Regions from separate parts of the Homo sapiens genome. Here region 1 is linked to region 2. Evidence: fine-mapped expression QTL. Tissue or cell type: sun-exposed skin. Region 2 holds a variant in brackets; the other region holds the start of a gene. All regions are shown on one strand. Distances are between the middles of the regions. Region 1 holds the start of GREM2 (gremlin 2, DAN family BMP antagonist). Region 2 overlaps FMN2 (formin 2).

Evidence for each region.
Region 1: it holds the start of GREM2, and the variant in region 2 is fine-mapped to the expression of GREM2 in sun-exposed skin (GTEx, PIP 0.93).

Annotation. Positions count from the first base shown.
Region 1 is chr1:240,603,501-240,619,026 of GRCh38, reverse strand. It overlaps GREM2 (gremlin 2, DAN family BMP antagonist), which reads left to right and starts at 6,872. Exons shown (of 2, transcript NM_022469.4): 1 at 6,872-7,143. RefSeq lists an enhancer at 11,669-12,168.
Region 2 is chr1:240,276,851-240,292,376 of GRCh38, reverse strand. The region is part of intron 7 of FMN2 (formin 2); the gene reads right to left. Among named protein-coding and RNA genes, the nearest start is that of FMN2, 190 kb to the right of the region's middle. The variant C/A (reference allele first, on the strand shown) is at 7,243.

The DNA of each region.
Region 1 (15,526 bases), 330 kb before region 2:
TTGTTTTGGAAGCACACACAGAACTTTTGGACATATGCTAATGGCTACAATAAGCCAAAGTGCCAAGCCTCAGTCAGGGGAGTAGGCCTATATTATCCTTTCTCAGGAATGGGTCCTGTGGGCAGGGAAGTGAATATTTTGGACAATAATACAATCAACCACCATCAAACATTTAATTCAAACAATATTTCTATTGGATGAAACAGACTGGGATTCCTTCTTCAGAATTATGTTCTGTGCCAGTTTACAATCCACATAAGGAAGTCATCTCTCCTTTAATAAATTCATCAATCAGTTAATTTTTTTTTGTTTTTTTGAGACGGAGTCTCACTCTGTCGCCCAGGCTGGAGTGCAGTGATGTGATCTCAGCTCACTGCAAACTCCACCTCCTGGGTTCAAGTGATTCTCCTGCCTCAGCCTCTCAAATTGTTGGGATCAGAGGCGCCCGCCACCACACTTGGCTAATTTTTGTATTTTTGGTAGAGACAGGGTTTTACCATGTTGGCCAGGCTGGTCTCGAACTCCTGACCTCATGTGATCCACCCACCTTGACTTCCCAAAGTGTTGGGATTACAGGCATGAGCCACCACACCCAGTAGTTAATTTTTTAACAAATTAGTTTATAAATTGTTATTCAACTAACTTTTACTGAGTGCCAGCTCTGTACCAAGAATAGTGGTAAGCACTGGTTAGAAAAACTCAAATAAGATACAGTTTCTGCCCTTAGAGAGCTTAGAGACTTTTCATATATCACATTGCTTTAATGGTACTCTAAAATGGAAATAGCCAGTTTAGTCTCCCTGGTGAGGAATAGCTCTGAATGATTTGGGCTTATTTCTAAAAGCCAAATCAGTATACTTCTCTATGGGAGCCCAAAACGATCCCAGAGAGGACACTCCCCCAAACCATATTGAACACATAGATTCTCCCCTCCACATTCAAACGCTGGTTACTGAGCTTCAGTAGCCTTTGCTATTCCTGGCATGTGAAATGCCTGCTCTATTGAGCTTGGATCCTGAATTTTATAAAGTATTTTCTCCAGGCCAGACACTGTGTAATCCTTCTAAACAAAAATCTAATTTAATCCTCCTAGAACTTACATCATTGTCACGTAAACTTTATTTTATATATGCAAAAACTGAAACCCCAGAAAAAAAGCAAGGAGGCCAGGCATGGTGGCTCGTGCCTGTAATCCTAACACTTTGGGAGGCCAAGGTGGGCAGATTGCCTGAGCTCATGAGTTCGAGACCAGCCTGGGCAACACAGTGAAACCCTGTCTCTACTAAAATACAAAAAATTAGCCAGGCATGGCGGTGTGTGCCTGTAGTCCCAGTTACTCGGGAGGCTGAGGCAGGAGAACCACTTGAACCCGGGAAGCGGAGGTTTTAGTGAGCCGAGATCGCGCCACTGCACTCCAGCCTGGGCGACAGAACGAGACTCCCTCTCCAAAAACAAAACAAAACAAAACAAAAAAAGCAAGGATATCCAAGCAGTAAGTGACTCAGGATTCAACCCAATGTTGACATCGAAGTCCAGGCACCAAACTACGGTGCAATAGTGTTCATCATCTGAAACTTAGCCTGAGGCTAAGTTTCAAACTTCTTAAATTATGGTACCTGCTTTGATTTTCTATTGGGCTTTTTTCCTTATGTACTCTTCAAGGAGGAGAACGTCACACAGATGACCTCAAACACTAGAGATTTGGTGTATGGATACACACAGAAACAAAGGAAATACAGGCAGGGCCAGTGGAAGCTCAGAAAGATTAAACAACTGGACCTCATCTTTTCTTGCTCATACGCAAGACATACATTAGAGGTCTATTAGATCTTCATAGACACCTATTCTAACCATGACCATAACTAGTATACTCTCTCTTCTCTGATTTTCTGACTTTTTTTTTTTTTTTTTTGAGACGGAGTCTCACTCTGGAGTGCAGTGGTGCAATCTCGGCTCACTGCAACCTCCACCTCCTGAGTTCAAGCAATTCTCTTGCCTCAGCCTCCCAAGTAGCTGGGATTACAGGTGCGTGCCACCACTGGCTAATTTTTGTCTTTTTAGTAGAGAAGGGGTTTCACCATCTTGGCCAGGCTGGTCTTGAACTCTTGACCTTGTGATCCATCCGCCTTGGCCTCCCAAAGTGCTGGGATTACAGACATGAGTCACCACATCTGGCTTGGTTTTCTGACTCTTTAAGCTTATGTTATTGCTATCAAATGACAAAGTTAGCTACAGATAGAGAGAGAGATAGATAGATAGATAGATAGATAGATAGATAGATAGATAGATGGATGATAGAGAGATAACCCTAGTTCAAGCTCATCAAAAGGAGAAATCTGATGGACAGCCACCTCCCATTATCTCTGCATGGGTGGCAGATTGGCTCCCTTTGAGTCCAGCATGCTCTCCTAGTCTGGTGTCTGTAGCTGTAGGGGCAGATGAATGTGATACTTCTACAGCTATCTATACTACTATCTAGGTCTCCTTCTTCACCTGGGCTATCGGGTCTGGGAAAGAGTTAAGGAAGTGGCAGGTGCCATGATGGAGCCATTCTGGCCACTCCTTCAGCTACATTTGTCAATCTGAATCTTAGTTTAACCATCTCCTGCGTTCACCGCTTATATGATGTCATAAGCACATGCAGGTCAAAGGTGGCTCTGCCTTCTCTTCACTCTCATTTTGCCCTCTTCACCTCTACCCATCCACATCTCAGAAGTAAGAGTACGGCGCAGAGGCCTTGCTGACATCTAATAAGCATGGGCTAATGAATCAAAAAACCCACAACCACCTGCTCCCTGGGTCTTAAGGGAAAATATAGGGATTGAGCTGAATACATGGTCATTCCCTTTCCTATTAATTTCCCCAGCTCATCTGTGGGTTGTGTTCTCTGCTCCACTGGGGTGACACAAACATGACAGATGGCACTCTCATAGACAAGGAGTTTATTCTGCGACACAGTGAGAGCTATATATTTTGCTATAAAACTCTTATAAATCACTCATATATTCTGGGTAGAATCACCATGACACAAGAGAGATAAATGTTATTTAATACATGTGAACAGTTGAAATTTGTGAACCGCAAGAGCATAGATTCATATGTATCAGTGAATCATAAATATAGATTTCATTTTGAGGTTTTGATGTAAACATACAGTATTAATAAACAAAGTTAATGACTTTCTAGAAAATAAAGGTTTCTTATATGGTGGAGGAATAAATATTGAATAATCAGTAAATTGAAGAATTTACAAACTTTGTGCATCAAAAACACTTTAACAATTTAAAAAGTAAACTATGATAATCTAAGAAATAATTATAGCTATAAAAGGACAAAACAAGCACGTACGGATTTATCAATAAATCCATAAGTTAAAGGGAAGCTATTAAGATAAATAAAGAGATAACCAAGGGGAAAACATTAGCATTAGAATGGCGTCCAACCTAGGCTAGAAAGAAAACACATGAATAGGTACAGACAAGATCAAGAATGTGATCTTACGCTTATCACACTGGGAATGCAATGTCAGTCTTCGGCAAACTAGTCATATGGAAATCTTGTATCTTTGTATAGTAGAGGAAGAATTATAAGCTCTTCTACTTTTTCTTTTTTTTTTTTTTTTTACTTTTTTTCTTATTACAAATTATACATATTCATCATAGAACACACAGATATGTCAAAAGAAGGGTAAAAGACCATCTGCGGTCATCTATAGTTCAGAAATATACTTAGATCGTAATCATAATCTTTTAAAAAATTTAATGGCATACTATGAAAATTATTCAATAAAATTGTAAATTATTCTGTAATATAGTAAAAGCCAATAATAGCATCAAAGATGATTTCGAGCTGAAGTAAACCCTAGGTTACTTAGTCTGACCTTTATAACAATCCCTTCATAATCTCTGCAAATGACTGTGAGTACTTTTCTTGACCACTTCATTGACCTATATCAAAATCTCCAAATCATCACTTTGCCAGGAAATTCTTTCAATTTCCGAAAGCTTTAATTTTGAGAAGTCTTTTGCTATCCTGATTTTTGCCTACCCTTATTTTCTCTCCAGAACAGCACTGGGTTTCGGGTCCACTTCAACTTATTCCCATCCTCTGGCATCGTAACTGTGACTACATCAGGGTGACTTTACTATACAAACTCTTTTAATCTCTAAAATTAGCCTAGTAGCATTTATCTTACATTCCTCATAGAGTTGTTTAAAAAAATCAAGAAAGAAAATGTTTATAAAAATGACAATACATTTGAAGCATTATCTGAATAATAAACATATTTCCTCTTTTACCTTTACTGTTTGAAAATGTTATCATTTTCACCTCAGTTCCTACTCCAAGATGCCTGATTCTCTCTTGCATCTCTTATAAATTATAATATTCAGAATCATCATCTTATCAACTCCTTTGGATACATGCCAATTTGTGAATATCTCCTGTAAAAAGTGCCACACTGAACTAAGCAGGATGATCCTGATGTGGCTGAATAAGTGGAAAATAAAATGATTGTTCTGTCATGAATCTGCCCGGCTGTCCGCTGCTGTGCATGCTGAGATGCAAGCGTTTTTATTATTACGGATGTCTGTGTCATTTATAAAGGATTTAAGAAATGTCTTTGAAAAACTCTTTTAAAGGTAGCAAAATGACGAAAAGACTAAATATAGAATAATAAACACTGACGATTTATTTTCCCTTAACCACACAACTGATGGGGTATAGATGTCCTTTAAATCATCCAGTTTTGCTCTTCATTAACTGAAGGACAGAGGGCTTGAATTATTATCTAAAATGAAGTTTAAGATAGATCTGTGACTTTAAGTCACCCATGATTTCACTTACACTGTCTTTTCAGTGCTATGAAGAGCTATAATGAGCCCTGAAAATAACAAGCACAAAATACAATGATCTACTTGGTTTTCTCAGTAACTGTTTCTCTCTTTTCTAGAAAGGCAATTCGAAGGCAAATTATTGGTAACTTATCTGAAAATAACATGACCCGTTCTGAAATAACATAAATGACTATTTACCAAGTTGGACAGATGATTTCATGAATTGTTAGCTCTTCTGTGCAAAGGCAGGCAGGAATGAGAGTCAGCTGTGTTAACCCTTTGCTTTCCTTTGAGTCAAACAGTTTGTATGAACAAACAGGGCAGTCATCCACTCTCCCAGCTCTATTTGCTGTCTGCCTTCAGCAAGTCACTTTATCATTCCTCCACTCTGTTTCTCCACCTGGAAAATCTGGAATATCATACCTATAACTCCTTTTTTTTTCGAAGACTGTTGAGATCTTTAGAAGAAATACATTCTACACTTTCAAAGATTTATGACAGTATTTTGTTTTTAGCTGCCTACCTAAAGAAAGGGAATGAACTGGAGTTGTTGAAGCAATAAGGATATGCCATTTGAGGTTAGACTGTGGTTAGCAGGAACCAACTGCTAAACGTGGTTTTGTTTTGTATTTCCTTTGTCAATTTCAGCTGATTTCAGGCAGGCCCATTCTGAGAATAAGGCTGCATTTCACAATTCCTGTAATGTGCCCACGTAAGAAAGAAGGCAGGTAGTCTGTTTGGTGATAGTATATTTCAAGAACTAATTGTTATTTCCTGTGAATTTGCAACCCAATGTGCTGTGAGTTGAGTTGGAACTAGAATATCAAATACCAAATAGCATACAAAAGGGATAACACTGCAAAAAAAAAATTCAAGTCAAAAATCAAAACAGAGCTCAGAGATTTCAGAAGCAATGGCTTCTTGTCAAGAATAACTGTCATTAAAATTTCCATAAGCACCAGTGAAATTGATTTTGGGGAAAAGTCTAAGGGAGGGTCTGTTTTATAAGACACACTGAAACTTTATTTTATTCTGAATTTCCCCAGCCAAGTTTGTAAGATCTCAGATTTTTCTTGGGCCCTTTCCCTGCCAAGGGGCCAAAGGTTTATCTCTATTGACACATACAGATAAAAAATTTTCATCCAGGAACCTCTATCAGCAGAGTCTGAATAGTCGTCTTTGGCTGGTGAATCACACTAAGGGAGTCTCAGTCCTGAGATGATCAGTGGTGAGAAGTTCAAAAAATAATGAAAAGAGCAAGCACTTAGGCGTCACAATACGCTTCTGGTATAACGCACCAAGCCGATGGAGCACAAGAATTGGTCTGGCGTCATTGTTTTATGTTCTCTGGATGTTGAAGAGTCTGATTTGCATTAGAAACCTCTGCATTCAATAAACAAAAATCAGGATAATAATGACCAAAGTACTATTTGGAACAGAAAACAAATTCAAGCAATGGGTGTTTTGCACTGAATTCATTCAAGATTTTATTAGTTAAGCTCTCACTTAGGTTATTAGGCTCAGCTTGCTTTTTATTTCACTGGCCTCAGTTACTGCAAACAAAAGGAGCCTGGTGTGTGTGTGTGTGTGTGTGTGTGTGTGTGTGTAAGCGCACGTGTATGAGAATGTCAGACATATCACACACAGGCTTTCTACATTCTTCACATTGGAAACCCATCAGCAAAAGGAAGAAGATCTGAAGGGAATGAGTGTTTTTTTTTTGTTTTTTGTTTTTTTCTGGTTTAGGGGATGGAGGGAGAATTTCTCTACATAAACAAGAAGGTTAGAATTGGAAGTCTGCTAAAAAAAATGTTAGAGCTGACCACAGGGTTGTAAATCCACTGACTGGAAGGAGGAAAAGAGAAACATTGCAAGCGACTGAAGTGTGTGGTGTGGCTGCAATGTTTGTGGGTTAGATGAGAAACAAGCGCTGAGTGAAACAGAGAAGGGGGGTGGCTGGTGTGATTTGTTTGGTGTTCAGAGCCAATAGAAATCCCAGACTCTGATAATATCCCCATGCAGCGCCGAGAGGATTCAGAGCTAAGTCTCCGGGCTCCTTTCACATCTGCAGGAGCAGCCAGCCTGGGACCGCGCGGCGCGGGGCGCGCTCTCGCCTCTCCTGCACCCTCAGCCGGCGCGCTTCTCTTATGGGCGTCTGCTGCAGTCTGGCTGCGGTCGAACTGAAAGCGGCGGCGGGAGACCAAACTTAGACCCCGCTGTGGACTAGAGAACTCAGAGAAGGCAGAGGGAGAGGGAGAGAGAGAGAGAGAAGGGACCCGAGGAGGAGGCTTCCATCACGTCATTGCAGGTACGCAGCTTGTCACGACTAACGTGACACAGACACGGTTTCTGATTTCTACCTTCACCAGGCACTTAGAATGAATTGACGTTGTTTGTTCCGTGGCTGGTCAGGACCGAAAGCCCTGAGTGGACGTCTCGCCGGTTTCACCCCGGGTAATTCAAGCTGTTGGCGTGTGTCTGGGGGCCACAAGGTTTATTCACCTATTGAATTATGCGTGGGTGTAACATAAGGACCTTCAAACTTGACCGTGATCGCTCTTTCTTTCTCTTTTAAATAACGTCAATACCAATATGTTGTCATCCCACCAATAAATACCTCTTGGTGACCGCCATTCTAATCATGACTATAGCGAGGCAAACACCATCCAATTGTTAGAAAGCGGGCTACGAACCTCTCCCACCTACCTACCAGGTTAATATCCTCCCTACAGGAATAGGAACCACAGCGGACTTCGGCAGAGTTTTGATTTTTTAAAGCATATGGCCAAGGTGCACCCGCCTCATGAGGGAAATATCACTATTATCACTACGCTGTGGTTGAAGGAGAAGAGAGAAGGGAGGTAGTTATTTTTTAACGTGATTGTCAGTGATCCTTCCTGTGTACCTGACTTATTTCTACATTGTCTTACGAGTTTAAAAATGCATTTGTATTCTGCACGCCAGGCACGTTCAGTTCCAGGATCTCACATATTACTACATTAAAAAGTCATGAATTGGAACTATCTAGTAGATGTGATAGTTGTAAGAAAATATTGATGTTTGATTTTATTTTATTTGATCCTAAAACTCATAAACTTCTATTTCTTTTTTTTTTTTATTTTGAGGTGTGGGTTTTGTTAAAAAAATCTATTTCCTGAGATTTTATCATGTTTGATTTGAAATTTTAAAGATAGTTATATAACTCCCCACCCCTTGATGACTTGTGATTAAATTAGCATTGCTTAATGAGTTCAGTCTTTCCTGGGAAAAGCCAGAGGGGACTGCAAGAAGTCAGTTAAAAAATTGGTCTTGCTTTGCAGTCTTCAAGGGCTGGCTGGTATTCATGTGGCTCTGAATCCCTATGAAAAGCGCTTTTTCTGCAGTGGAACAGATTGGGACTCCAGTACAGCCAGAGAATGGCTCTGCAGCAGGTGCAGGGGCAATCAAATACCTTACCTTTCGTCTAAACAGCACTCTTCCCAGTGGAGTCTTAGTCGATCATATCCAAACCATTCACTGATAATTCGCAATCGACTCACCATTCAGCCGTGCTTAGCTTTCAAGGTAGCCTTTGTCCCAAGACATGTGCCCGACCAAGGAAGATAAGAAAGTTATAAGAAAGGTATTTGTGTTGTATATCACAGTGGAGAATTTATATCGACCTTTTTTTGTTTGTTTGTTTTTTGTTTCTTATCAGATGAACATGTTCTTTCTGTCATTAAAGGAAATGCATGCTTAGCTCTACCATAGAGTCAGGAAAACTTCATAGTTTTTGCCCATCGACTGATCTGAATGATTTAACTGGGTGCTTTTTGAAATCGTGTCAAAGTATAGACATGGCAAGTGAATATTATATTTGGGAGAAGGCATTTTAACTTTATAGATAAATTTTTTTTCCTTTTACATCAGAAAGAAACTGTAAAGAACTGATCTGTGCAAATAAATATAAGTTAATCGACCCAACTACATTCTATTGGTAAAGAGTTGTTTTGTATGATTGTGAGCATTTGTCAATCTTTTATAAATAAAATAGCTGCAATAAGTTGGGACCTATTTCTGTCTTATCTTTCTAACTCTAAAGCAATGTTGGGTGTGTTGGTAGCAACTTTGTGAGTGTGAGACGGATTATATTCACTTTGTATAGACTAGGAGACACTGATGGCTTTTCAAAGATAAATATAAACAATGCTGTGATTATTCATTGTTTTTTGCTATCATTCTTCACCGAGAGAGGTAATCAACAGTTCATTCTCTATGAATCTTAGTAGAGCCAGCCAGAGCTTTACATACCCTCGAGTTATAAGTTTGGTAAAGTTTAAACAAGGTACATGCCTTTAAATCTCTTTAAAGTAAACATCTCTTTTTCTAATGCAAAGGAATGGTATTAGACTCTCAGTTCTTATTGATATGGAGAGGATTGGCCTGTCTGGGTCAAGGGCAGACACTGAGAGACTGCAGAGGCACAGGCACTCAACAGATTAGTTCAGCCACTTTTGTACTTCAGTGTTGCTACAGCAATTGCCCCTGTGCAACGTGCCAGGTTGCAGGCATGTTCTCAGTATCAGGGTCCTTCAAATATCTACGGACAAAAAAGAATTATTTCAACCAGGGAAAACGTGCCCAGCACTCGGCTTAAATGGGTCACACAAGACATTGTTTTGAAGGACAAGGTGTTCAATTAAAAATTAGACCTATGGTGCCATCTTCTTCTTGGATTAGCTGCTTCTTGATAGTTCTTTTGTTTCTAATAATATTAGGTATAATAGGCCTAATAATGTCTAGAATTAATTTTGATCACATGTCAGGCTAAAATGTGGTCCTCAGACTCAACACTGACCAATGACTTGAGCAGATTTCCCATCACCACCACTTCCAGTTGGAAAGATGTCTTTAAGTGGCCAGCACATTGATGGGACCCAGACGGTGTTGGCGCACTGATTTGTAGAACAGAGTCCCAGAGCCACATGGATGTTAAGGGGATGGAACGTGAGCGGGTGGAAGCACAAGGGTATAAAGTGACATGATATAAAGATTGACATGCTTCAGTATAAATCCTGGAGCCAAAGGAAAATGAAAATGAATGTATTTCCTCTAATTACCTTCAGATATAGATTTTTGATTAGCTTCAAGTATACATTTTTGATGAGACATCCTGAATATTTTAAATAAACTCTCTTGTGTTCTTAGGTATATCCCACACAGGTGTGGGGGGAAAATAAATGCATTTGATGTACTGTAACACTCCTGTCTATACAGGCCAGGAGAGGGCAGCATGCAAACTCTGAAAAAGTGATTTGATACCTCCCCCTGACCATGAGGAAGACTCCGGTCGCCAAATGGCTAAAAAATCTCCCTCCAACTTGAAGTGCCCTCTTCCCTTTGGAGAGCCAACTCTAGAGTCTTAGTAAAGGCACACCATCCAGAAGGGTTTGTTTCTATTTTGGCCTCCAGAATTGGTGCTACCTGGCAAAATCAGAAAAGCAGCAGCATATTTCACAGTGAACTCAATTTCCCTTTCTTTTAATTAGCTTTACCCTTTGAGCCTATTCAAGCAGGGGAACACTTGACCAGCTCCTATGAAATGCTAAGTTGACTTCGTCTAGAACAAACATTGTCTGCATTAAAAATATTATTCAACCTGGCTCTATAGGTGTGACTGTAAAGGCTGAGAGGAAGCTAATCTTATCATCTATGGAAAACTAGCTGCTTCTCTCTGCTTTTATGCAATTATAACACGAACCCTGGATAATGCATTGTATTTTCTAATTATGGTAGCTACGTTTTGGGAAAGTTGATGGATGTGTGACATTGTACTTAGAGTTAATAAAAATCCAGCAGCTCTGTAATGAGATTTCTCTGCCTTTGCTAGGAATTTAAATCTCATCAGCATTTCAAACGATCTTTACTTTTCTCTTATTGATAATGTTTAAAAATTAAGATTGTTCTAACATTTGTTGAATGCATACCATGTGCCAGATTAGAGTAGACACATCTCACAGATTATTTAATTCAGTCTTCACCACAGTCTCAGGAGTTTATCTTCTGCAAGTTTTACTGAGAATTTCTTGTAACCGTAACATCTGATAGCTGAGAACATATTCCTTCAGTCAGTCAGTCCTACAGGCATGCATTCAACAGATATCTATTGAGTCTCTTTGTATAATTATAAGATAATAACAATTAATCATCAACAGTATGGTTGCTTTTACTAGTATAGTCCTTTACATTATATTTTCACATACATTCTTGTGTTTAATTCCTGTATTTCACATACATTCTTGTGTTTATTTCACACATTCTTGCATTTAATTCCTGCCAGTTATTCACATATGCAAAAACAATAACAGCAAACATCTTCTATAGCACTAGCCCATCATTAAATGATTGAATTTACATATATGATTTCAATCATGATGGAATATTGATTGATTTAGTTTCAGATCCACAGGAGTGGATTTGATCAGATGTTTATCATCCATCTAATAGACGAAAAACAGATGAAAAATATTCACCCTCAGGCCCACTACTTGAGAGCAACATAGATCTGTGTAAACTTTAACTTCTCTGCTAAGAGCGTGCTCAGTGTCTGGAGGCACCATCCCCTGGCCTGCAGAGACCACCTTTCATGGTTCCTTATGAAAACTTGGAGCAATGCAGAAATATGTGTCTTCAAACATACGTATTTAAGACTTCAACTTGACCAATGGTATGGAAAATACACTTACAATGTCATTTCTATGAACTCAGAGAATGTAAACTTTGAAGGAAACAGGCAAAAAGCATCACTTTCTGTCAGAGGGTCTAATAGTATTAAGACTTTTTTTGACCTAGAAGAGAGTTATCTAGTAATTATGAAAAAAAAAATTTAACCTAAGAAACTCAGGAGACCTGGGTTTGCACCTGTTTCCATTTTTCACATCCTTGGGGAAAGTCTACACTCTCTCTTGAGTTTACTCTTTACAATGAGAAGGCGGAAGTGGCTCACTGGGCTTCATTCCAGCTGTAAACATCAATTCTACGTGCTTCCCTCTGAGAAATGGCTGACAGTTGTTAGTTAAAGAATGATTATTTGCTAAACATTTTATAGGTATCATCTAATCCTTACAAAAATCTTAGCTAGTAGTGTTATTATCCTCATTTACAGATGACATTACTAAGACTTAGAGCTTTCAAAAAGTGACACAGTCAAGCATGCTGTAGAATCATTTCAATCTGGCAGGGCTCAGTGGCTCACGCCTGTAATCCCAGCATTTTGGGAGGCCGAGGTGGGTGGATCACTTGAGGTCAGGAGTTTGAGACCAGCCTGGCCAACATGGTGAAATCCCGTCTCTACTAAAAATACAAAATTAGCCGGGCATGGTGGTGCACGCCTGTAATCCCAGCTACTTGGGAGGCTGTGGCAGGAGAATGGCTTGAACCTGGGAGGTGGAGGTTGCAGTGAGCTGAGATCGCGCCACTGCACTCCAGCCTGGGCAACAGGAGCGAAACTCCACCTCAAAAAAAAAAAAAAAAAAGAACTGTTTCAATCTTAACTCTTCCACACTTCCTCTAGTATGTTGTGCCTTCATTCACTTACAAGTACTGAAAAGATACTATGTGCATAAAGCAGTGTTCAAGATTATAGGGCATAATAGTGAAGAAGACAGTTAAGGTACCTTAAAGAGCTCAATACTAGTAGGAAAGACCAGGAATAACCTAATGATTACAGTGGTGTTTGTTGGGTATTATAACCAGGATCCTCCGAAAATCTATGGCATTGTTTTGGCCTTACTAACAAAGCCATTTGACAACACAAGTCTTTTCATTGTAATAGCTCAAATTTTTTCTTTACATCATTTCAGATATTTTTTCCACTGGAGTTTAATATGGTTTTAGTCTTCCTTGTATAATTATTTTTGTAACATGTTTACATCTTTCACTAACTTTCAAGCTCCCCTGAGGGCAGAGGCTATTTCTTGTTCTTCTTTTTATTTCTCAGCACAAAACTGATGCTTAAGGAACTATTTCTGATCTGAATCTATTGAGATCCAGCTGCAGCTAATTTAGAGCTAGGATCAGAGACTGCTGCTTATCTGCTGAAAGACACAGTCTTCAAAAAATTCTAAACACACACATCTACCATAGGCTAAACAAATGACAAACCCAGTCTTTTGTCCTGGGAACTTTTTGTTTTTTTTCTTTTTGTCTTGTGTTATTTATCCCTTATGCTACAGACTCCTAAATGTTTAAAATGATCATTTCAGTGAGAAAATAAAAATGTCATGAAAAATCAATTAATTTTTTAAAAATTTACGACTTAGACATTAAAATACTAAATCAACAATTTTGATAGGTTTTGTTTTTCCAAGTAGAAGAAAATTTATTTATTTATTATTAGAGAATGCCAAGGTGTTCCTGTAAATTTATCTGTCATTCCCCTGGGATGGCCTGTTCATAACAACCTGGAATGCACGCTGACTTTCTGGGCTCATTGCTTCCCCTTGGAAATTAACAAATTCTTGCTCAAGCAGAAGAAAATGATAAGATTACTGAAAATTCTGGAAACGCTGTGATTTTTGGATTAGAAGATTTAATTTAGGAGATGCAGGAGAGTTTTTAAGGGGACTAATTTGTTCTATGTGGTTTTCAGAGGTTAGATTTTTAAAAAATCTCTATAAGGATACTTTTTACCTTGGTGATTTTTTATTTGTTTGTTTGTTTGTTTTTTGAGACAAGGTCTCATTCTGCTGCCCAGGCTGGAGTGCAGTGGTGCAGTGGCATGATCTCGACTCACTGCAGCCTCAACCTCTCACGTTCAAGTGATCCCCCCACCTCAGCCTCCGAAGTAGCTGAGACTAGAGGCATGTGCCACCATGCCTGGCTAATTTTTCAATTTTTTTGGAGATGTTTGGAATGCTTGTTCCTTGGTGCCATAAAGAAATAGCACTTGAACATAAATTTAATATATTTAGTAAGGCCATTTTTACTTCCGTAGAAAGGGTACACTCGCCAGCAGTTTTGCCACGAGAGTACACTGAACAAAGGAAACAGGGTCATTTATAACCTGACGCATCCATCCTACTGCTGTGTCTGGTTTCCATTGGCTGGAACGGGACCTCACATTCTGTATTTGTCCCGATTGGCTAGCAACTTAGAACTTTTTAAAAGAGGCAAAGGTAGAGGAGAACAAAGGAAGGAGGAAGTAACTTGTGGAATGCTGAGAAAGGTAAAAACACTTTTAAATAAGGAAGAGGAACAGGCTATGACCTAATGCTTGCTTGGACCAGTATAAGCATGCCAGGGCAAATATTTAGGAGCACAGGTCTGAATAAATTTTGCTTCTAAGAGAAGTTACTATTTATTCCTAATTAGATGGGGAGGAAAGTCTTTGAAGAGGAACCTCTACTTTTACTTTTTACAAAGAGATGGGTCTCACCATGTTTGCCAAGCTGGTCCCGAACTCGGGGGCTCAAGCGAGCCTCCTGCCTTGGCCTCACAAAGTGCTGGGATTATAGGCGGGAGCCACCATGCCCAGCCTACTTTGGTGTTCTATAAGAATTGAGGGGAATCTGTGACATTTGATAGAAAAAAAAATTGCTTCTTGACTTCCACTTACCTGTAACTGAAATATCACATTCTCTTTAGTTACGAATGTAACAAACCACAGTAACATCAGTGGAATCACAGCTTTGTCACCAATAGAAATCAGAATTACTTTCATGTTACAGTTGATACCAGAGTCTCAAAATATCACTTACACTTACCTAGTACTTAAAACTACTTGAAAATTATGGAAGTGATCATACCTGCTTTTAGATCTCATTATTTAGTCCCTTATAAACAGGACCAGACAATTGTATATCATACATTTTATACACACACACACACACACACACACACACATACGTATAGTTATATAAAGCTGATCTAATTGGGATATTTGTCCCCTCCACATCACATGTTGAAATGTGACCCCCAATACTGGAGGTAGGGCCTGGTGGGAGGTGTTTTCATCCTGGGGGTAGATCCCGCATTAATGGCTTGGTGCCCTCCCCACGGTAATGAGTGGGTTCTCCCTCAGTGCATTCATTCACTTGAAAGCTCGTTCTTTAAAGAGAGCCCGGCACCTCCCTTCCTTCTCTCCTGCTCCCTCTCTTACTGTGTGACACCCCTGCCTCCCCTTAACCCCTCGCCGTGAGTGGAAGCCTGTTAAGGCCCTCATTAGAAGCCAAGCAGAAGATGCCAGCACCATGTTTCTTGTACATCTGCAGAGCTGTGAGTCAAATAAACCTCTTTTCCTTATAAATTACCCAGCCTCCTTGGATATTCCATGATAGCAGTGCAAATGGACTAACACAATAGCATATATATATATATAAAATACATATATAACACAATAGCATATATAAAATACATATATAATAACACAATAACATATATGTGTGTGTGTATGTATATGTATGTATATATAGCTTGCCTTGTAATAGTATATACTTTTTGAATTTAAAAACATTATTCTGAGAAGGAATCATTAAGGTTCATCAGACTTTAAGGCAGTCCATGGGGAAGAACAGGTAAAAAATCCCACACAGTAGGGCAGTAAATTTGATGTCAACCTTTCTAACACCTTCAGCTGTCTTAAATGGGATGGGTAGCCATGTGAGCCAATGAAGTTTGTGCTGGAGGGGGAGATGGATGGGAGATGGATGGGA
Region 2 (15,526 bases):
AGAGTTCTAGATCATGCTAAGAATGACTGAATGCATTTTTTATTTTTTACTTATTTACTTATGTACTTACCTACTTACTTATTTATGTATTTATTTATTTCGGTGGCAAAAAGATTCAAAGAAAAAACTCCTCAGAAATTTCTTGGTTCCAAGTCCAAAATTTCAGCCTTGTTTCGGAGGAAAGAACCTGAGTATTGAAATTATATCAAGGTGACAGTTCCTCCAAAGGGAATATTATTTTTACAAGATGCTGTTTCCTGATGTGGAACAAACATAGAACATGGAATCGAACTAAACTAAGTTTAAATTTAAATTTTTATTTGCTGCTGCATTACTTCAAGTAAGTTACTTTTTATAAGTTTCAGTTCCTTTATGGGGCAGGGGCAAGGAAATAATGGAAAATATTAGCCAAGTTTTGGTTTGGGGTTTTTGTGGGGCTTAGAGGCAATAACAAGTAAAAGGGTCTGACATGTAGTTGGTTAATGTTACCTCCCCATGCCAACTTTTCACATAAATTCAACTATTAGAACATCCTTCCTGCTCAAGTGAGCCTTGCTATGAAGCCCAAGGTTAAACGAGTTGACTTTTTTTCAATTTGTGTTTTAGCTTCCCCGTGTATCCAAAAAAAAGAAAAACAAAAAATCCATTCCAACTGCATCTACTGAGGGATGGAACCTTTACCTGAATGATAAACCATTAGAGTGAAACAAGAGAGCCTGGTACAGAACTACCTGGGCTTCTTCATTATACTCTGTCTTGTTTATTAGCATTTAAATGATTAAGCAGAAGACTAGATTTCAGATAAATCCAAAATTTAAAAGAATATTCAGTGATAAATGTTTAGTTCAGATTACTTTATTCTCTAATATTCAGCAAGGTGTTAATGTGATTACATTTCAGATTGGAGGTCAGATATCTCACACTCATTTCCTCCTTGCTGCTTTAAGATGCTGAGTAACACCCATCCTTGTCTGCGACTCTTTACAATTCCCACCCCCACCCACCCCCTGCAGGTCTACAATGCAGTTTTAATCACTTTCTCAAAAATATATATAAATCAATTTAACCAGGAAGCATCTGTTCTGTTTTTATGTGAGTGGGTTCAAGGAGAAAGGTGTTGAGAGGAACTATAGACCTTTTTTGCACATTAAAAGATTATTCACTTATTTGTCAAATATGCTACATTTCCAGGATTAAAACAACGGAGATATTTACCACTTCCTTTAAACAACCTACAAATGACCACGTGTTACTAATCACTCCAGCTGGATGTGGTGGCTCACGCCTGTAATTCCAGCACTCTGGGAGGCCAAGGCAGGCGGATCACCTGAGGCCCAGAATTCGAGACCAGCCTGGACAACATGGTGAAATCCTGTCTCTACTAAAAATACAAAAATTAGCCAGGTGTGGTGGTGCATGCCTGTAATCCCAGCTACTCGGGAGGCTAAGGCAGGATAATCACTTGAACCCGGGAGGTAGAGGGCCTAGATCTACCTAGGCCAAGATCTACGTGAGCCAAGATCATGCCTCTGTACTCCAGCCTGGGTGACAGAGCCAGACTCTGTCTCAAAAAAAAAAAAAAACAAAAAAAAAAAACCAAACAAACAGACATCACTCCAGACCAAAATAGACAACAATTCTTGTCTACGATTTTATCAAATGCCAATGTCTAGATAGAGAGTAGAACATAGTAATCTTTCAGGCTTTCATACCAAATGGCTGTGTGTCTTTGATCAAGACACTAAACTTCTCTGAGACTTTATCAAGTGGGATAACTTTCGTTTATAGCATATGCTTATCATGTGGGGAAAATAAGTAATTATATAGTAGAAAAATAATTCAGAAAGGCTTGGAATAATGGGTGTGATTAATTTTAAGGTGTATGTTACCTGTAAACACATTGGTTCAGAAATTAGATTAAAACTAGGTGCTAAATTAAAACTAGGTTCAGGACTAAACATTTGCGTTCAATAGTTAAAAGTTAATTTCACAATAGCTATTCTCATCATGAACTCCTCCGGTACGAACTTGCTCCACCGGTATGAGCTCGCTAAGATCCAATGTCATTGTTGTTAAAGCATGCTGTTAAAAAATGAAAAATGAAATGGCCTGTTTTGGAAGTCCAATCGTCAATTTAACCTAAGATATTTAAAATGTCTCAAAATGTCCAAACAGAAAAAGAAATCTGTTTTCTTTTGATTTTAAGATTTTGATCGATGACTGCATTACATTAAAAAAATAAAAGAATAAAGCAATTCAAAACAACCAAGCATTATAGACTCAACATAAGAAACAGTCCCACTCTTGACTGTGCGCAGGCAGGTGTCTATCCTTGGACACTTGGTCTTTGCTATTAACGTGTTCTCCTCCGTGGCTGCCTTTGTCAGCACCAGAAATGTGGTACATGCTTCTTATTCTAACTTACTACAAATGTTGAATTACCCACAGGCTAGAGAGCAAAGTAATCTATCTGTATGAATGTTTACATGATAAAATGAATCCTGTCTCTATACTTTCAAAGAACTGCACAGAAGGGAAAGGACTTATTTTAAATGTGCCTTAAAAGGAACTCATTTAAAACAAAGCACTTCAACAAAACATTATTAGACAAATTTGTTGATCTTTCACATATTTTGAATAGCCAGATTAAGTAGTTCACTTTATTTGTGTAATCCCTTTTTTTTAGAGAGAGACAGAGTGACAGGGTCTCACTCTGTCACCCATGCTAGGGTGCAGTGGTATGATCATAGCTCACTGCAGCCTCAGACTCCTGGGTTCAAGCAATCTTCTCATCTCAGCCTCTCCATGTGGCGGGGACAACAGGTACATGCCACCATGCCCAGATAATATTTCTATTTTTTTAATTTTTTTGTAGAGAAAAAGGTCTTGCTATGTTGCCCAGGCCGGTCTTGAACTCCTGGCCTCAAGTGATCCTCCCACCTCAGGCTTCCAAAGTGCTGAGATTGCAGGCATGAGCCACGGTGCCCAACCTATTTGTATAATTCAATATGATAGGATTACTCTTGTTGAATGCAACATTTTAAGCTATGGAACAGTGTTAGTACATGCCTTACATTGATATTTTTTAAAATCAGGGATCTGTTGGATGAGACAGGACTGGAGCAGTCTCTCAGGGCTGTGCTTGATGGCCCCTTCCTTTCATAAGCCATGAACACTTATCCCAGCCACTGCAGTCACCTACTTTAATCTTTCCTGTGTGACCTGCTAAACTGGTGGTAAAGATGCCCCAAACTAGAAAATCTCACAGTGTTTATTACCAAGTGTGTTATTCATTTCTGCAGGGCAAGTTACACCAAAGCTTAGGGGCTTACAGAGCACACATGGATTATCTCACACGTTCTGTGGGTCACAAATCCAGGTGCAGCTCAGCTAGGGGCCTTTGCCTCAAGGTCTCCCATAAGACTGCAATCACAGTGTTGGCGGGGGCTACGGTCTCATCTGAAGGCTCTGCAGGAAGATCTGTTTCCAGCCTTACTCACAGGCTGTTGGCAGGATTCAGTTCCTCAGGCTGAGGGCCTCAGCATCTCACTACTGGTTGGCTGGAAGTCTGACTCAGTTTCTTGCCAGATGGGCTTCTTCATAGACAACTCTCAAGGTAGTTGGCTTCCCTTAGAGTGAGACAGAAAGGGCATACGAGACAGGGCCTCCTTCTCTTTGTAACCTTATTTTGGAAGTGACATCCCATCACCCCTGTTCTGTTCTATTCTATTCAGTGTGAGTCGTGAGTGTAGCCCACATATAAGGGCTAGGGAATATCACAGGGCCGTGAGTCTCAGAAGGTGGGGATCTCCAGGGACCATCTGAGGGGCTGCCCATCACAACACATTGCTAACCCATGGCTCTCTGTTCCTTGGACTTCAGCTTCCAACTTGTGTTGCTCTATGGGTCTCTACCTTGTGTTAATTTCATTAATTCGAATGTTTTTATTCTCCTATTAGGCTCTAGGTTGACAAAAGACATGGAGAAGCATCATGATTCAGTGGAAAGAAAAAGTGCACTAGTCAGGAAGGCTGGCTTCTGGTTTAGGCATAACCTATCAAATCAGCTAAACCTCATCATTTCTATAAATAGAGATCATATGAGATACGTTCTGTAGATATACAGAGACGTGTGAGACAATATGGACAGACCCTTCCCTCCATAATTACATGGTCATGCTTCATTCACTGTTGTATCCTTTCTCTATCTAGAAGAACCCAGTACACAAAAGACTTGGAAAAACATCTTTCTCGAATGCTGAAAGGCTAAAACAGGCTGAGGTTAGCAATTCCTGAAAATCAACTCTGCCTTTAATTTTACTGGATAAACTGACCTTTCTTTGAGATCACTCTGATTGTCCTTTCATAAATAACTAACTTCACTCTAGCTGACATCATAGCTCAAAAATACAGAACACAAAGATAATATGTCATGTCACATTGCCACCTGATGGCACTGGAAGGCAGTGGGGCACAGTGACCACACAACTTATTATCTGCATAACCCAGAGAGTCTCAAGTTCCTCATCTGCAGAATGGACCTAATAAGAAGAGGACCTGCCCTACAGAGTTCTTGCAGGAGATTAAATAATAAAAGTCAAATGCAGTGCCACGCACAAAGCAAACACTCAGAAAATGTTGGTTGTTGTGATTATTATTACGGCCCATTTCACATTCCTATAATGGAAAATGTTTTTTTTAATCTCTCTCCAAATCAGTATCTTAGATTGAGAGGTTTCAGATGAACCAGGTTGAAAACATTCTCAGCAAAAAGAAAAATGACAGTTTCAGTTGTACTGATAGTAACATAGAAGACTAAACAAGTAACCAGAGGGAAGCCATTAACACTAATTTGGGTTAAAGTACATGGAAAGAGAAGTAGAGTCAGCAGAAGCTTAAACACAAAATGAGTACAAATCAGCCCATATTTACGGTTCATGCCCTCTTTTCACTGGCAGAGTATAAGGGCTTGAAGAAAGCATCTTTACCCCATTTAAAATACAGAAGCCACAGGAAAAGCTTTGATGAAGTTAGCTTTGCAAGCTGCTGAGAAGCAAAGACCTTTGTTTGAGCAGACACTCATCTTATGTAGCAGAGATCAGAAGCATCCTCTCATTTAAGAGTCAGGTTTGTCATCTTACTCTAGCTACCAGGAAACTACATTTTGTAAGAGATCTCTCTGAGGAACTGCAGGGAGCATGTCATTTCGACTTTAAAATCAGGACGACGAGGACATGTAAGCAGTTAATTTTTGTTTCACTGTATATTTCAGTGAAATAGAAACTTTTACATTTTGGGGATGCGTAATTGAAATGTATCTGACAGTATTTGTTATCTCTTTTGTAAATGTCCTACAAAACATTTTGGGAATCTGGAGTTATACACACTCCCCCATCTAGAAGAGCTGACAGTATAGTGAAGTAGAAAGACACATCGACAAATAACTACACAACAATTACACCACAATAAAAGCACAAGGTAGAGCTTGTGCAAACAGCAGAAAGAACTGCGTTGTCAGGTGTAAAAGATCCTCAAAGTGACAGAGTTTGAAAGTGAACGACTACTAAATAGATGGTCTAAATCTTAATAGCATCACCTAACATTCAGATTGCTTCATTCCATTTGCACTGTGATATGTATTAATACGTACTGCTGGGAAGCATCTCTGATTAAGATGGCACAGGAAGTACACACATTTGATTTTGTTCTCTCCTGAAGTTTCACTAAAGCTATAGTAAAAACATATTTAAAAAAGTAAACCCATAAGGACTGGAAGAAAGAAGATGAGATGACAGCAACAAAATGTGGAAGCCAGCTCTACTCAGTTTCGTAGACCTTAAAATGATAAAACCATAACTTTCACTGAGAAAACTGAGCACCAACCCTGAAGGCCAAGGAACTGGCAACAGGCACTTGTCCAACTGAGGGTAAAGCAAGGAATATCAGAAACAAGGAGCACTGGATGAATGCTGCCAGTCAGTCAGTTACATGCTCATTCTGAAAAAGTCCTTCCCAACTTCATCAGGTTGATTTTCTTGAGAAATTAAATCTAAGTCTCTGGACAAAGACACAGCAATCACAATTGTAGGATAGGTTGCTATGCTGAATACACAGGGACCATGTGGAGTACTGCATGTTGAATACAAAAGCCTCCATACCTCCATTCAGCCCTCCTCCCCCAATTTAGGGTCCAGAACACTGCCAGACAGGCCTTTACACCCCAAGCCAGAAATGGGAAGTCTCCAGGAAATCTCTCCATCCCAGGAAAAAAGACCAAAAGATAAAGACATGGGTGAATACCCGACAAAAAACCCACACCGAAAATGCTACACTGAACTCAAAGTCCAAGAGCCCAACATGAAGACTCAGGGCTTCTCATCACCTTTTAGACTTAAGCAAGAACAGACAGCCAAGGATCAAATCATCTATGGGAAGCCTCTACAAGGGATGTTAGAAACCAGAGCGGGGGAAAAAAAGGAAAAAAAAATAAAGCAGTAAAACTCTTCCAACTCCTACAAAGTGTCGTCAATACTTGTTGTCCCCACCTTCTTCTCTGCCCATCACTTCCTAAACCCACTCATCAAGTCTTTGCTCTGATTACTGAGTCACCAGTGTTTTAGATCTTGTGAAATCCAAATGCACATTTCTCAACCCTTGGCAGCATGTGACACAGTTATAAATTCCTTCCGATACACGTGCTAAACATTTATCCTAGCTTCCAGGATACCACTCTCTCTTCCTCTTCCTCCTACTTCTAATGTTCCCCATTCCTCAGTCTCCCCTGCTGGCTCTTTCTCTCCCTAACCTCTCATTTTTGGAATGTCCTAGGGCTCACTACTGCCACCCTTTCTTACCTCTATCTACACTCACCGCCTTGGTGGTCTCGCCCAGTCTCACGGTGGGCTTGAAATACTCCAGCACTTTCATCTCCAGCTTCCGACCTCCTTCCTGAACTCCTCACTTATAGAACCAACAGCCTTCTCAGCATCACCACTTGGGTGTCTAACAGACAGCACACTCTATACATGTTCTTCTGTCTTACATGACGGAGCCTCCATCTGCTTGGTGTTCAGAGGAACTGTCCTTAATTCCTCCCTTCCCCTCACCTTCCACATCCAACACATCATGAATCGTGTTGGCTTCACATTCCAAACACATCCAGAATATGACTTCACCTCACCACACCCACCCCTACCACCCCATTCTCAGACATTCCCGATTATTGCCTGCAATTCTTGCAACA[C/A]CCTCCTAATTGAACAAAATGTTTCTTCAAACAAAAAACAGGGTAACAGAAAAACCCAATAGAAGATTTGGGAAATACATGTGAGAATTTCCCAAAAGTAGATCAAAAAGGAAACGAAGAGGAAAAAGCCAAGAAATTTAGACAAATTTAGGAAGGCCAACATCCAAATAACAGGAAAGAAAAGGTTGACCAGTTCCTGAGAGTAGATCCCAGCGAGTTAAGATTAACAAAAACCATAGAATCACGTACTCCCTCTGACCATATGCCTGCCAGATATAAAGCACTTGGTTCACACTCTAGCCCAGCCAGAAGCTGTGTCCCTGGTGATCCTTCTGTTCACAGAACTTACTCACTACATTGCCTATTAGTTTTTACGTTTTTAAGGACCCAGAAAAGGTCCTTAAAAATTTGAGGGACTCTGAAGCTAGAAGACAGATTACAACTTAGAAAGTTTCTCTGCCTTTCTTTTATAATCCTTCATCTAATAGTAGAAATATTTCCCTCTTCTTACCTAGCTAAGTTTGTGTTTGTCTTTAGGTGTTAAAAGACAAAACAATATAAAGTTGAGGAAAAGTTGTGTAGATGGACAAAGAATTCCAAGAGTGGACAGCTGGGGAAGGGAAAGTGCTTTTATAGAAGCTATCATCTGTATTCTAGTGGAATTAAAGAGAAATAAAAACTGAATTCCAATATCTTTGAGTTTATTAGGAAGTAAAATGAAAACACAGGGTCTAGATGAGGGGGAAAATGTCAGTCATTCCTGACTGTTTGTTTCTAACTCAATCCTCCCCCCCAGCTTAAAAGATTGGCTCATATTAGGGAGTGATATGGGCATCTAGTTAGAATATAGTGATGAAGATTATTTGAAATATGAATGAAATCCTGACAATTACCCACATGACAATATGGCCAAAGTGCTAAATACATTTGAATCAGTTAAAAAATTGTTTTCAGCAGTAAGTAAAAGAATATCTGAGTAGATAGAGACTTGAACAAAGCTAAGGTAGGTTGCCATTGATTCAGGGGATAAAATATGTTAGGGCCCAAAATTTTTAAGTGGTCTTCACATGCCTTTTCCTTTTCCTCACTTGGAACAATTGCTGCTACTGTACCAGCCATCACTTTCACATTCCAGGCCAGACGAAGGAGGAAAGAGGAAAGCAACAAGAAGAAATGCACAATGCCGATGGATCATAAATTTTTAGGAGACTTCTACTTACATCTCACTGACCGGATCAGTTTCCTATGGTCACCTGGAAGGAAAGGGAAACTGGAAAGTATGGCTCTAAATGTGGACGAACTGCTGTTTCTAACAAAATAGCAATTTCAAGCTCCAGTCTAAGTAATCTCCAAAACACTCCATAAATACCAAGGCTCATGACTTTCCCTACCTTTGGATTCCACCCTTTAACATTAATAAAAGCCATCTGATACACTCCAGCTACTCCCTCTATTGTATAAAAGTATGTGGTTGGTCGCTCCAAGAAGATTTTTAAGAGCCTAATAGCAGGGATCTTGTCTTAGACATTATTGTATCATGCCAGAGTGTCCTGCATATAGCAGACAACTGAAGAAGTGTGTAATGTGAAAAACAAAAGTCATTGCTGAACCTCCAGGGAAAAGTCATAATAGGTAACCTTAAGAAAGGATGCCACCACTCACACATTTGCCTTATTGGCTCCAGAAATGCACAAAGGCCGAAATGCCTGAGAAAGTGAAAGCCAAATAAATACTGGCATAGGCAAAAATCCCTGCTGCAAATGGTAATACAAGCATGAGCCTCTAAATAGTAATGAGGAGAGGAACTGCAAAGAAAAGAGCAACAGACAGACATTACTAGGGGAAGAAGCCTCCTTTTCCTCCTCTGCATCTATAATCTGTGGTGGATACAAAAGGCTCATTTTTATTTTCAGGGCTGCCTTAATTTTTATTTATTTCAATTACTGTTCTAATTAATCTGCTGAGAAGATGTAAGAAGGAAGAAGAAAAAAAAGAAAAACACAGCTTGGCAGAAATGCCTAGAACTATCATCCCTCAATCTTTATTTGAAACTCAATAAAGCATAGAAACCTTCGGGAGGTGCATGTCACTGTGCAACTGGATGTGAAAGGAGTCAAGAGTCACACCCAGCATTGTTTTCTAAGGAATAGAATGCTGATGCATCAATCTCCAGCTGAAAATCTGCACACCTGGGCAGTTACATTAAAAACTTCCAAAATGTATATTACATAACAAAAATTTTCTAAAGAGGTAGCCAAGCAACTTTTAAATTTGTGTTGGATTTTGCTTGGCTTAGTTACGTGAGCATATCCAACAGCTGATGAAAACTCATATTTCAAAGGAAGGAAGACACTTGCTACCATATTCATCGGAACATTTTACACTCGATGATAAGATGAAAGGAAATACTACTTGCATTCTTTCTGCATCTCACCACTAAGATGCTTGGGCACCTGGAAACCTGGGGCCTTTGAGTATGCACACAAACGTGGGCATCTTGCCAGAAGACGTGCTGCCAGGCATTCTTAACATACACCTGAAACCCTGCACACACGCTCGTGAGTAATATTTCAAGTAATTCTGGATTATCTAAAGACCATGATAAAGGCCAGTTAAATGGCACATATACCAACAGCATTCTTCTTTTGATCCCAAATTTAAATAGTGGCGTTCTATTCCTTGTATTTGTAAGACTTCTAAATTTTATTACTCTCTTCTGATTAAAAGCTCTAGTTTAAACAGTAACATGTTTACTGAGAAGTCTTAACTCACCAATATAATAACTCAAAAGTTGTGGTTTTCTCCAGAATTACATGAGACTTAGACCTTGTGTTTTGGATTTAGATAGACCTGAACTAAAAACAGGGCTCTGTGACTAACCAGCTGTGCATCTCTTGGAGAGACTTGGTAAGCTCTATGAGCTTTGGTTTATTCACATGGGAAATAGACATATCAGTGGTAATGTTATTATCCCCTTAAATGGATATTATAAAGATTAGAGGTAACTCCTCTATTGTGTGGAAAACAGTCCTTGTTATAGCAGGCACTCTAAAATGAAAGGTTCTTCAGTTTTCGGTCAATGTCTAAATAGCACATATACCTTTGTAGATATATTTGCTCTCATAAAGCAAAATATAAATTAGAAAATAAGACTATAAGTTTCGTATTATTGTTTGGACCTTAAAAATAAAAGGACAGTATATTCAAATCACGCATCTATATACAACTGGGCTAATTCCCAATTTCATGAACCAAAGTAAATGAAGATCTGCTTAAAGAATAATGGAAAAATGGGTTATTTTCAAACCAGCAGTCAGTGTATAAATTGCTCTACAGTAAGAAATGCACAAATACAGTACCTTAGAGATATTACCAAAAAATGAGTGATATTGTGTCATTTGTCCTTCCTTTATTGCGTATTTTAAATTTTGCTAATTAAATGGTACGACATTGAAAGGAGACCATTTATTAAAAACTGTAAGACAAAAATGTACTCTCGAGAGACATGCTTTTAAATATCAGAAATTAATGTAATAATTACAAAATATTTTTATTCATCCACAGAGAAGACAGAATATCTTCTGGAAAACATCATTGATTCATTGAACAAATATTCAGAATTCTAATTCTGAGCTAGGTACTCTTGTCCGCCCTGAGGATACAGCATAAACCAGACAGACACGGTTCCTGCCCTAGTAGAGTTTACACCTTGTTATCAAACAGTTAAAATACCATATGTCCTAGGAAGGAAGAAAACTGCATTTTTTATAATATCCTATAATTTAGAAATCACTTTAATTTGTACTATCTTCTCTTTTTGAACAGTTTAGCATGATGGAGCTTTACTGTAAGATACAGACAATAAAATCCCAGAATGCCATAGACTTTGCACTCAGGCTACATAAAGAAAGGCTTTCCTGCAAGAAAAAACTAAATCCCATACACAATCCAACACTGGTACATCTCAAGCATACTTGCTTATACAAGGTTAACGACATAAGTTACTGATTAAGTCGGTAGGCTTCATACACCTATGGGCCTTGTTTATAAGAGCTGTACAAGTTAAATTGTTAGAGAACAAATGCATTTTGTTTGAGTCAGTATGTCGCCGTCTTGTCTAGGCAGGAGGGAAAAAAATGGATACCAAGACTGTGATCCTTTTGGAATAAAATCTTTAAATGCAAACATGATTACCATTGTAGACTGTTTAATCTAGCGATATTGTATTTCATTTCTGTTTTTGGAGAGGTTTGTTGATTTGACCACACTGGGTACGACTCGGCGCTTATCTCAACTGTTTAGATAAGATTTATTTGACTTTGGCAGGTGACAAAATCTAGGGTGTGGAATAAGGGAGGTAGAAAAAAGACGGGTATATTCCCAGATAGTGTTTATTTTAAGCATAGTGTATAGATGAGCAAAGAGTTTCAAACAACGCACTGTACTTTATGTAAAACATCCACTGTCTGTTGAATGTTTTCCGTAAACCAGCACTGCAAAATGTCCTTTATTGGGCATAACAGATTTCACCTTCTTGCTTAGGTAAACATTTATGCTCTTGTAAAAGAGGGCTTAGTGAGTTCCCCTGGAAATAGAACCCTAACTCTGGGATCACATTTTGCCACTGTTTTCTAACACATGCTCTAAAAGGGGCACAGTGATAAACTTTATTTTGAATGTAAGCATATATATTGCTCCATAAGTCCAGAATCTATCAGAAATCTAAAATGTCTTATGCCAAAATAACTTTCATACCAATAAGAATCATCTTTTTTCAGTGTAGTGCTACACAAACATGTCTCACTGAAAGAAACCTAAAACAGAAAAGCTTGAATTATAAACACAATGATTATAATCACAATTTTAAGGGAAAAAATTTTCCTTTTTAAAATAGTTCACCTAAAACTTCATTTAAATATTCAACTTCTTTAGTATATGTAAACATTTATATATTGGCAGACATGCTGAGGTAGGGGGAAGAACTAAGAAGTTTGGTCACTAAAAATTAAAAATTCATAAAAAAAAGAAAACTCAGTTGTGAATTTGTAACATATGACTGAGAAGATCAGAGCTCACATACCAAAATTAGACATGTTAGGGTAATACCTTCCACTGTACTACAGAGATCACCTTAATCAACTTGTATTTCATTACATTTCCAATATGTTTAAAAACATGAAAAATCTAAAACCCACATATTTATCACCCTCCCTTTGGAATAATTTTGTTCCTATTTACATCAACATGTAGTTAATATATGCAAAAATATGATACACTGGTTTTTGTGTATGTTGAGTCATATTTTGTTATTTGTTCAGTTAATGAAGGTTTCTTTTTTCTCTTCTGAAGTATATGTTGATGTGTAAAAATTACTTTAATGTTTCCTTGTCTAGAAGAATGAGGAATTAGTTAAATATGGGGAGGTGTTTCAAATATTAGGATTTATCTGATGTGCTTTTAATTAATAAAAAGTTGCTTCTAAGTAAAATAAATACTTTTCAAATATAAGATAGAAAGGCCTCTGTTCTAATTCCTCCACTCACATTTTTGAGTTCTAATTAAAGTTCCAGAGGTGACTGGTGCCTGGAAAGTGGACTGCTAAGGGAATTTTCCTTCTATTTACTGTGCTGTCCTCACACTTTCCATTCTCTCCAGAGTTCAGTAAGTACCACCTGCTTCTTACAGTGATGTCTTCACAAAGGAGATTATCAGTTTTGCTTTTCCCAACCCCAACCTCTTCCTCCTTCATTGCTTTAAGTATCCAGTGACTTTCAGCATTTCTGCAACTGCAGAAATGAGGTGTCCCACACATTTTGATTTAATTGAGCAAGATGTATCTGTCCTCTTCTCACGGTATCAGAATTTTTTTTTCATTAAAGAAAACCATTTTTATTGTCAGAGCTTCCTAACATCCTTCAATCGCTCGTAATATGTGCAAATAGTAAAAATATAGGATAGGCATCACTGTGTTAAAAAGCTTGCATGGAAACCATTGGTTGGAGGAAGGTTTAACCTACCTCAGGCACCGTGAATTTTCAGCACTGACGTGTCCATCATATAACACTAGTTTCAAGTCTCTTCTCTTCCCCCACTGCCCAACTAGAACAAAATTACAGTTCGAGCTCAGGTTGCTCTATGAATAGTAAATGTCTCTTCAAGATTCCATTCAAATAACTGGACTAAAATTTAGGAACTTTCTCCATAGTCCCACACCTACTGGCTTGACAGGCCAGGAATCTCATTCCATCATTACAAAAATCTGCTATGGTCTTTTCCTTGGCTGCTCCTATACATAAATAATCCCATGAAAACTGAACCAATAAGAAGTAATGCAGACTTCAAATTTCACAACTTATACATATAAAGATACTCTGGTATTTTCATTTGTTTCTTATTTTCAAGATGTGCAAAGTCAATCTAAATGTATCTGTGTAAGGGAAATCGTTGCTAGTGGCTAAAACAGTTTAATAAAGCCCTTAAAAGTTAATCTCAGCTGAAGTTATGATCCTCATTGTTAAAGAAGAAGCAATTTCCTATTAATAAAATTCCTAAGGAATATCAAATCTCCTTCCATTCCTCGTCTCTTCTAGCTGAGGAAAGAGGAGAGTAAGTGGATTTGTCCTCACCTGCCAGGCTACCACAAAGGAAAACTCAACCTCTCCCCCAAATTCCTCTTTGGCACAGAATAAATGAGTTAAAGTCGAGGCTAAAAGTTAACTCCCCAGACTTCATCGTATTTCAACACTTCGAGCCTTTCACTAAGTATTCTGAAATTACTACTCAAGAGTATCACAGATGCTAGAAGAGTCACGTCATGTCTTTGTGACACCCAGACCTTGTGCTATGTGCAGCAGGTGATGGGAATACAGCACTCCAAAGATCGTGACCAAGATAATGACAACTGACCCTACAAATGCTCATTCCAGACACTCTGCAGCAGTGAGGCCAGGAGCCCCAAATGCCTGTTTATATAGTTATGAAATAAACTTTTAAAAGTGGGCACTTAGCAAGAAGCATTAATATATGCACAGTGTAATAGGAATCGGGGTTCATTGGACCACTGATAAGTACATTTGAATTAGAAATAATTCATCTCAAAAGTGTAAAGTATGCATGTTGGTAACTATTCTAAACATTTCAAATATTTCAAAAAACAGTAAAGCCTCTTAGAATTTAAATAAACATTTGAGTTCCATTTTTAACGAACTCAATATTTTTAAGTTTATTGTTTACCAGACATCTAAATATTTCAAAAGCCTTCACTCTGGTAAATAAGGCAATGTTAGAAGATGTAGGTACGGGCCAGGCGCTGTGGCTCACACCTGTAATCCTAGCACTTTGGGAGGCCAAGACGGGCGGATCACTTGAGGTCGGGAGTTCAAAACCAGGCTGGCCAACATGGTGAAACCTCGTCTCTACTAAAAATACAAAAAAATTAGCCGGGCATGGTGGCAGGTGCCTGTAATCCCAGTTACTTGGGAGGCTGAGGCAAGAGAATCACTTGAACCTGGGAGGCAGAGGTTGCAGCAAGCCAAGATTGTGCCACTGCACTCCAGCCTGGGCGACAGAGTGCAACTCTGTCTCAAAAAAAAAAAAAAAAAAAAAAAAAGAAGAAGATGCAGGTACTTAAAGTTGGGTAAGGCATAATCTTCATAAAACACATCCTTCTCCCTCCATTTATTTGAAAAAAAAAAAAAGAAAAGGCAGAAAGGTTCAATATAACTGTATTCAAACATGGCAGTCCTAGAGTCCGGGAGAGTTTAGACCTGCTGGTCTTAAACGGATTGATCATACCAGATTTTAAAATAAAAAATTCTAAGAATTAGAAGAAATATATTTTTCTAATGAAATAATTAATGTCAACTTGGATCCCATCAATAACTCAATCTGTATTCTCTTCCAAATGGCTACTGTGACAAATATTCAATGTTATTATCCAACAATCCACCAAAATGGTAATTGAATTTTCTGTTTACATTTAATTACAGTATTTTACGTTTATTAAATATAATATTTCCAACTTATCTTTACATGAATGTTAGGAAATCAAGAAAGCCGCTATTGTTTATGTTCCTCTGTATGGAAGAAACATTTAACAGGATCAAGGATTAAGTGGCAACAGTGCAAACACAAACACACAGCCTGATTTTAAAACAACTTCCTGATTTAAAACAACTTGGAAATGCAATTTCCCCAGTGAACTAGTGTCAAGTTTGATGAGAAAATGAGGCAACACTGAGCATTCTGTCCCCTTTCCAGGCAGAGCCTCGAAAAATAGAAAATA